Linked DNA regions of Homo sapiens: region 2 is linked to region 1. The links come from fine-mapping of genetic effects on gene expression. A gene starts in region 1. The other region holds a variant in brackets. All regions are shown on one strand. Distances are from middle to middle.

Region 1 (4,382 bases):
TTTGAGACCAGCCTGGCCAACATGTTGAAACCCCGTCTCTACCAAAAAATACAAGTTAGCTGGGCGTGGTGGTGCACACCTGTAATCTCAGCTACTTGGGAGGCTGAGGTAGGAGAATCACTTGAACCCGGGAGGCAGAGGTTGCAGTGAGCCAAGATTGCACCACTGCACTCCAGCCAGGGTGACACAGAGAGACCCTGTCCAAAAAAAAAAAGAGTCTAAGAGAAAAAGAAGGTAGATAAATAAACCAAATGATCAAATCTAACTTCAGCAAAACTGCAACGAACTGACATCAGGCACTCTGGAAGGGCCACACTGACAGAGACACAACGTTGCCTCTCACATATTCCTGGTAAAAACATTTAAGCTGAAGCTAATCATGAGGCGAAAATCAGACAAATCCAAATTGAGCGATATTCTGCAAAACACTGGGCTGGATTCTTTAAAAATGTCATTTGGCCTACAGAGGACAGCCAAATAAAAATGAAAATATCATTGTCATGAAAGACACAAAAGGCAGGGACACCATATTAAAAGAGACCAAAGAGATATGACAACAGAATACAATTGGTGATTCTTGATTGGATAGAAAAAATATAAACAACTATAACACATGTTATTGGGATAAATGGAAAAACTGAAATATGGACTGTGTATCAGAGTATTGTATCATTGTTAAATTTTCTAAATGTGTTATTTGTACTGTGATGATGTAGGAGAATGTCCTTGTTCTTGGCAGATAACTGCTGAAAGAAGTGGTGAATTATTAGTAGTCTACAACTAACTCTTGAAAGGTCCAGTGAAAATAAATACATAAATGGGAGAGAGAAAACACCAGAGCGAAAGCGAGCACACAAAAATAAGGCAAAATGGTGCAGCTAAGTGAAGGACGGGTTTATAAATATTCAATGTACTGCTCTTGCAACTTTCCTGTACATCTGAAAATTTTCAAAACAAACAGATGGGAAGAAAAAAATGAATATAGTACAAAATATGTGCAGTATCATAGTCTGCACTGTAAGTAAAAGTGTAAAGTCTTTTGTAGACCTTGGATTCTAACTACAGCTTTGTAGTGCATTAATGAAAAAGGTAAACATTAAACAATATCCAACAAAATAAAATAAAAATAAAAATGCCTTGTAAAGGGTGAATGAGATTAATTATTTTAAATGTTATGCAATGTACACCATTGACAATTAGGATACAATGCAAATTTAACATTATAACTACTCCTAACATAATATTTTCACAGCAAAGGTCTGAATTTTTACTGCACCTCTGGTTCACAACCATAAACAATTATATCTGTACAGTAATAATAATTTTAAAAACATCATTCTAGCTGGTTGCACTTGGATTGTCAATAATCCACAAATCCCACTAAAGAAAATTTTTTACCCGTTACATTTTCTAGAATGACTACCTCATTTCCCAACTTTGAAGTAACAGCTTTTAACTAAAAGGTTGCTTCAAAACTACTATTAAAAAGTGGTTCCTATAAAACACTACTGCTTGACCCAAAAAATAAAATAAAGCACACAGCCCAGCTTTCCTCTCAATTGGTCACTAAACCAGTATCATGAAAAGGCAGGGAGCCACGCTGTAAGCGCTCCCCCGTTTTCTGCCGAATGTTCAGGAAAAGAGTGTCAGGTTCAAGCCAGCATTTAAAATAAAATAAAATGAATCACAGTCAACTCCCTAAACTCCAATGTAAGAACCACGCACCTGCACCAAAATATGCCTGAGCGGGAACTCGAGTCGGCTCTCCGAGACCCCAAAGTTCCCAACCTAGCCCCAACCCCTCAAGCTTCCCCCAGGGGCACCGGCTTCTCACAGCCGAGGGGGATTCGGGGCCCACATGCGGAGCCTCCCGGGCCTGTCGAGCCACGGCAGAAGGCGACGACGCCCGGCCCCACAGGCCCCTCAAGCTCCTCAAGCTCCCCCAGTCCCTCCCTCCCCCGCCACTCGCTCTCCAGTCCCTGCCCCTTTCCCCGGCCCCACTCACTCTTCATCTTGGATGCGGAAGCCGGTGACAACCCCTTGCCGACACTGGACGGAAAAGAAAGAAGCAGGAAGGTTGTCCCCCTGCTTTCCACTTCCCTGAGGCGGGGTCCCGCACTAGGATCTCCGTGGTGGTCCCTCGAAGGAGAGCGTTAGAGATCCCGCCGCCATGTTGTGTCCCTGTCACCCTAGCAACCGTCAGGCCCTGAACGCCATGAGCTGTCGCCTGCGCATGCGCAAGATGCCCCGCCCATGTACGCGTGCGCAGTGCAGCCCGTCCCCTCAGCCCGGTTGCTAAGCAGCCTTTCCTCCGCTTCCATGTAAATACTGTGCAAATCCCCGCCTTTGACACAGGCGACCTTCGCTCGGCTCGCTCTCCCTGCTGGCCTGGGAACTTAGCGATTTGGAACCCACTACGTGGACGATAGCCTTGAGCTTTAATTGGGCTTGGGAGCTTCTACAGGAATTTTTTTTTTTTTTTGAGACAGAGTGTCGCTCTGTTACCCAGGTTGGGGTGCAATGGCGTGATCTCGGCTCACTGCAACCTCCGCCTCCCGGCTTCAAGCGATTCTCCTGCCTCAGCCTCCCAAGTAGCTGGGATTACAGGCACCCACCACTACACCCGGCTAATGTTTTTGTATTTTTAGTAGAGACGGGGTTTCACCATGTTAGGCTGGTCTCGAACTCCTGACCTCAGGTGATCCGCCTGCCTCGGCCTCCCGAAGTGCTGGGATTACAGGCGTGAGCCACCACGCCCGGCCCAGTTTTTCTTTTTAATTCAACAAGCATTTGTTTTTGCCCCAGGAACTGTCGCAGGTATTGGGGATTAAAGGACAGTGTAGACGAGGTGACTGAGTTCTTGAAACTAACATTCTAGTGTAAAGATGAATGAATGTACACCGGAATGAACTATGTGCAGACACGGTGCCTAAGCAACACAGTGGCCTAGTTCTCTGGACCCTGACAAAACAATAAAATAACAAGCATACTATGTATGGGTATAGTATTTTATGAAGCTCATTAGATTAGCCTCATAATTATTCCATGAGATCAAAACCCTGTTTTTTCCTCCATTTTTTTTCTTTTACTAAAATACATCGTTTATTTTTAAAACAGATAAGTAGCCTTGCCAAAACGAAGCCTCAGAAAATTGGTTTAAGACTGAATTGGCCAGGTGTGGTGGCTCACACCTGTAATCCCAGCACTTTGGAAGGCCGAGGCAAGAGGATCGCTTGAGGCCAGAAATTCAAGACCAGCCTGGGCAACATAGAGAAACCCCACTTCCCTCTTAAAAAAAAAAAAAAAAAAACTCCGGGCGTGGTGGCTCACGCCTGTAATCCCAGCACTTTGGGAGGCCAAGGCGGGCAGATCACGAGGTCAGGAAATCGAGACCATCCTGGCTAACACGGTGAAACCCCATCTCTACTAAAAATACAAAAAAAATTAGCCGGGCGTAGTGGCGGGCGCTATAGTTCCAGCTACTCCGGGGGCTGAGGCAGGAGAATGGCGTGAACCCTGGAGGCGGAGCTTGCAGTGAGCCGAGATTGCACCACCTGCACTGCAGCCTGGGCGACAGAGCAAGAGACTCAAAAAAAAAAAAAAAAAAAAAAAAAAGCCGGGCACGGTGGCACATGCCTGTAAACCCAGCTATTCAGGAGAATAAGGCGGAGGTATCTTGAGACCAGGAGTTCTAGGCTCAGTGAGCTATGATAGCACCACTGCACTCTAGCCTGGGTGACAAAGCAAGACCTTGTCTCGAAAGAAAGAGAAAGCGGCCGGTCGCGGTGGCTCACACCTGCAATCCCAGCACGTTGGGCGGCCGAGGCAGGCAGATCACTTGAGTCCAGGAGTTCGAGACCAGCCTGGCCAACATGGGGGAAACCCCGTCTCTACTAAAAAAATACAAAACGGCTGGGCACAGTGGCTGATGCCTGTAATCCCAGCACTTTGGGAGGCCAAGGCGGGTGGATCCCCAGGTCAGGAGTTCAAGACTAGCCTGGCCAAGATGGTGAAACCCCATCTCTACTGAAAATAGAAAAATGAGCCGGGTGTGGTGGCAGGCACCTGTAATCCCAGCTACTCGGGAGGCTGAGGCAGAGAATTGCTTGAACCCGGGAGGCGGAGGTTGCAGTGAGCCGAGATTGCGCCACTGCACTCCAGCCTGGGCGACAGAGTGAGACTCCGTCTAAAAAAGCAAATACATAAATAAAATACAAAACAAGCCAGGCGTGGTGGCTCACACCTATAATCCCAGCACTTTGGGAGGCCGAGGAGGATGGACCAACTGAGGTCAGGAATTCGAGACCAGCTGGCCAACCAACATGGTGAAACCCTGTCACTACTAAAAATACAAAAATTAGCCAGGTGTGGTGATGCGCTCC
Region 2 (4,382 bases), 69 kb before region 1:
CGAAGAACTCCCTCAAACTCCCTTCCCCAATATAAACCCCTCAATCTGTAAGCTTGGGGCTGCTTCCTCTGACTGTTAAGCGGCCGGTGGCAGGTTAATAAAAACTTGCTTGCCTGACTTTAGGTCAATTTTTCCTTTCTCTCGGATGACCTAACATTCTGGTGCCGAAACCCGGGAAGGGGGATAGACTCTGGCCAGGACTCGCTCACTATCAATCTCTCTCTCTCTCTCTTTTTCTCTCTCTCTCCCTCCCTCCCCTATCACCCCTCTCCTGGCCAATCTCCCCTTCCCCGAACCTGCCAAAGACCCAGACAATCTCCTAGACTCTCCCATTGCTGGTGACTTCATCCACCATCAAAGCCTCCGCCAGGGTGAGTAAAAAGAGACTGTTGCCATTCCCTGAACTCTTGACCGTCCATCTCCCATTTCCGAAAGACCCAGCGCTGGGCCAAGGGCTTCCTCCAGCCTCCAGGCCTCTGGTTCCTCCGTTTCAGGGACGCCTGACACGGTGGTTACCTCCTCTATTCCTGACAAGTTCCGCGGGAAAGGGGACGTCACCGGCAGTCTCTTCTTCCTCTACCCCCCTCCCTTCCATTCACTATGGGAGCCTCTCAGTCTATTCCTCCTAAAACTACCCCCCTTGGGTGCCTCCTACACAATCTGTATACTCTTGGCCTCCGTTCAGAAATCTGCCCTAAAAGGCTTATCTTTTACTGTAACACCACATGGCCTCAATACAAATCAGACCATGGCTCCCAATGGCCTGAAAATGGCACTTTCGATTCCGACATGCTCAGAGACTTAGACAACTTTTGCCACCGCAGTGGGAAGTGGTCTGAGATTCCTCATGTTCAGGCTTTCTTTACTCTCTGTAGTCGTCCCTCCCTCTGCCAGTCCTGCTGTACTTTTCAAATTCTCCTCGCCTGCTCCAAACCCGACTCACCTCCTGCTCCCCTCATCCCAATAGCCCCAGCGGACGACTTCTCCTTCTTTGATCCCACCGATTTCTCCCCTCCTCGACAACATCCTAATCCTCCACCGGAACAGCATGACCCCCCACCGTATGCCTCCGCTCCGGCTCTACCTCTCTCTCCCCTTCTCTCCAACCACCCCACCTCCGACTCTGAGTCCTCCCCATCTCCACCCCTTACTCGTTCTCGAGCCCAACACGCCCAGCAGCCTGCTCCCTTGCTTCTTCTCCGGGAAGTGGCATGGGCCGAAGGGATGGTCCGTGTCCACGTCCCATTTTCCCTCTCTAATGTTTCCCAAATTGAGAAACGTCCAGGTTCTTCTCCGATCCCGACACTTACATCAAATAATTTAAATATCTCACCCAGTCTTATGAACTTACTTGGCATGATCTCTATATTATTTTGTCTTCTACCCTCCTTCCGGAAGAAAAGGAAAGAGTGTGGCTTGCAGCCCAGGCCCATGCCGATGACCTCCATCGGCAAGATCCTACTAGGCCAGTAGGGGCCGCTGCAGTTCCCTGAGAAGAGCGTACCTGGGCGTATCAACCCACAGGCCCCTGCCAGACCTCCTGTAATCATATGATTACTTGCCTCACTGCAGGCCTTAACAAAACTGCCCATAAGGCTGTAAATTTCGAAAAACTCAAAGGAATCTCCCAAAAGGCCAATGAAAACCCTGCCCAATTCCTTTCTCGCCTTACAGAGACTCTCCAAAAATACACGCGTGTCGATCCCGCCTCCCGGGAAGGAACTATTGTTCTTTACATCCATTTTATTTCCCAATCTGCCCCCGACATCTGGCGCAAACTTAAAAAGGCTGAAGATGCCCCTCAGACCCCACAACGAGACCTCCTTAACTTGGCTTTCAAAGTCTTTAATAACAGGGATGAGCAAAATAAATTAGATAAAGCCCAAAGAGATCGTGCTAAATACCAGCTTCTAGCAGCGGCTGTCCATCAACCCAGCCGTATCACCCAAGGGCACAAAAGACCCGATAGCAGCAACCCTCCGGGCCTTGTTTTAAGTGTGGCAAAGAAGGCCACTGGGCATGGGTGTATCCTAACCCTTGAGTGCCAAAGAGTCCTTGTCCAGTGTGCCAGCAGACAGGCCACTGGAAGTCCGACTGTCCTCTCAACAGACAGACAAGCCTGCTCCTCAGAGCCACCACCCCTTTAACAAGACAAAAAGTGAAGAACCGCTTGCATTCCCGCAGCTCCTCAGCCTAGCCGCTGAGGACTGACCGGGCCCAGGGCCCCCGGCCCCATCTGCCATCACTGCATTGGAGCCCAGGGTAACTCTGCGAGTAGCAGGTAAGCCGATCTCTTTTTAAATTGATAGCGGGGCCACCTACTCAGCTTTGCCTGAATTTTCAGGACCCACTCATCCCTCTCAGGTCTCAGTTGTGGGGGCTGATGGACTCATCTTGCGTCCACGCGCCACCAGACCCCTTACTTGCTCTCTGTTTGATACTGTTTTCCCACACTCTTTCCTTATCATGCCTCGTTGCCCTACCCCCATCCTAGGCCAAATTCAAAGCCAAATTCAAATTCAAATTTTGGCCAAATTCAAAGCTTCTATCACCTTTTTCTCCCTCCCTCAACCGGAGTCCCTCCTACTCCTCTATGCGAGTCCAGCCCCTGACCCCTCTCCCCAGTACCCACTTCCCACCTCTTTTGTAAACCCAACAGGGTGGGACACCACCACCCCTTCCCTAGCTACTCACCA[C/T]GACCCCATCAAAATCCAGTTAAAAGACCTCTCTAAATTTCCCAGCATCCCCAAAAACCCTATCTCCCTAACCCACCAAAAAGGCTTACAGCCCATCACAAACAAGCTCTGTTCACGCCGTCTTCTTAGGCCAACACGTTCTTCATATAACACCACCATCCTCCTGGTTAAAAAATCAGACGGCTCATACCGACTCCTGCAAGACCTCCGAGCCATCAGTCAGGCTGTCTTTCCTATTCATCCCATAGTCCCTAACCCCTCTACACTTCTCTGTCTCATTCCCTCCAACACCACCTGCTACACTGCTATTGACCTAAAAGATGACTTTTTTTACTATTCCCCTGCACCCTGATTCCCAAAACCTCTTTGCTTTCACCTGGACCGACCTTGACACCCTCCAGTCACAACAACTAACCTGGACTGTCCTCCCTCAAGGCTTCAGAGATAACCCTCACTTCTTTGGACAAGCTTTAGCTCAAGATCTCACTTCCTTAAACCTTTTCCCTAGCCGTCTCCTTCAATACGTGGACAATCTTCTCCTTTGCAGCCCCTCTCTAGAAGACTCTCAAACTCACACAGTTACTCTCTTAAAACTTTCTCTCCATCAAAGGGTATAGAGTCTCCCCCTCCGAAGCTCAACTTTCCACCTCCATAGTAACTTACCTAGGAGTTCAACTTTCCCCTGGGACCCGGGCTATGACCCCTGCCCTAGCAGCACTAATAGATAATCTGCCCTCGCCCTCCTCCAAAAGCGAAGTTCTTTCCTTCCTAGAACTAGCAGGCTTTTTTAGAATATGGATTCCCAACTTTGCCCTCCTAGCTCACCCACTCTATGAAGCAGCCAAAGGCCCTCTCAGTGAGCCTCTAAATCCCTCACGTAACATACTCCCCAACTTCTGCAAACTTCAAACCGCTCTTGTCACTGCACCAGCTCTGTCCTTACCTGGTATCTCCCAACCTCTCACACTCTATACTGCCAAAAGATGAGGAATAGCCCTCGGTGTCTTAGGGCAACAGAAAGGAGACCCTCCTTCCTTTGCCCCTGTAGCCTACCTCTCTAAACAGTTAGACAACACAGTCAGAGGATGGCCAACCTGTCTTAGAATGCTAGCAGCAGCGGCCACTTTAGCTGTAAGCAGGAAACTAACATTGAGTCAAAATACCACCACCTACAGTCCTCATAATCTACAGGATCTCCTCTCCTCCCGAGCATGAGGCTCCCTCCTTTCCGGATTCAATTACTCCATGCCCTCTATCAAAAATCCTGAATTCGGTCTTGCCAAAAGTGCTCCCTTCAACCCAGCATCCTTACTCCCTGTATCTTCTTCCCTTCCTACTCATTCTTGCACTGACGTCCTAGATCACCTGCAGCCACACTTTCCTAACATTTCCTCCGAGCCTCTCACCAACCCCGATGACCAGCTATTTATAGATGGCCCCCCTTCTGGGCCCACTGGCTCCCCCAAAATTGCTGGGTATGCAGTTGTTTCCCTTGACCGAGTAATTGAAGCTAAGCCCCTACCTCCAGGAACCTCCTCTCAAAAAGCAGAATTCATAGCTCTCACCAGAGCCCTAACCCTTTCCAAAGGCAAACGAGTCAACACTTACACAGACTCCAAAGATGTATATCACATTCTTCATTCCCACGCCACCATCTGGCAAGAGAGGAGATTCCTTACTGCCAAA

The links.
Region 2: its variant is fine-mapped to the expression of MOK in nasal epithelium (TOPMed, PIP 0.94).

The regions. Positions count from the first base shown.
Region 1 is chr14:102,302,957-102,307,338 of GRCh38, forward strand. It overlaps MOK (MOK protein kinase), which reads right to left and starts at 2,208. Exons shown (of 12, transcript NM_014226.3): 1 at 2,006-2,208. The coding sequence starts at 2,012. RefSeq lists enhancers at 2,089-2,611, 2,378-2,427.
Region 2 is chr14:102,234,014-102,238,395 of GRCh38, forward strand. The region is part of intron 7 of MOK (MOK protein kinase); the gene reads right to left. Among named protein-coding and RNA genes, the nearest start is that of MOK, 69 kb to the right of the region's middle. The variant C/T (reference allele first, on the strand shown) is at 2,697.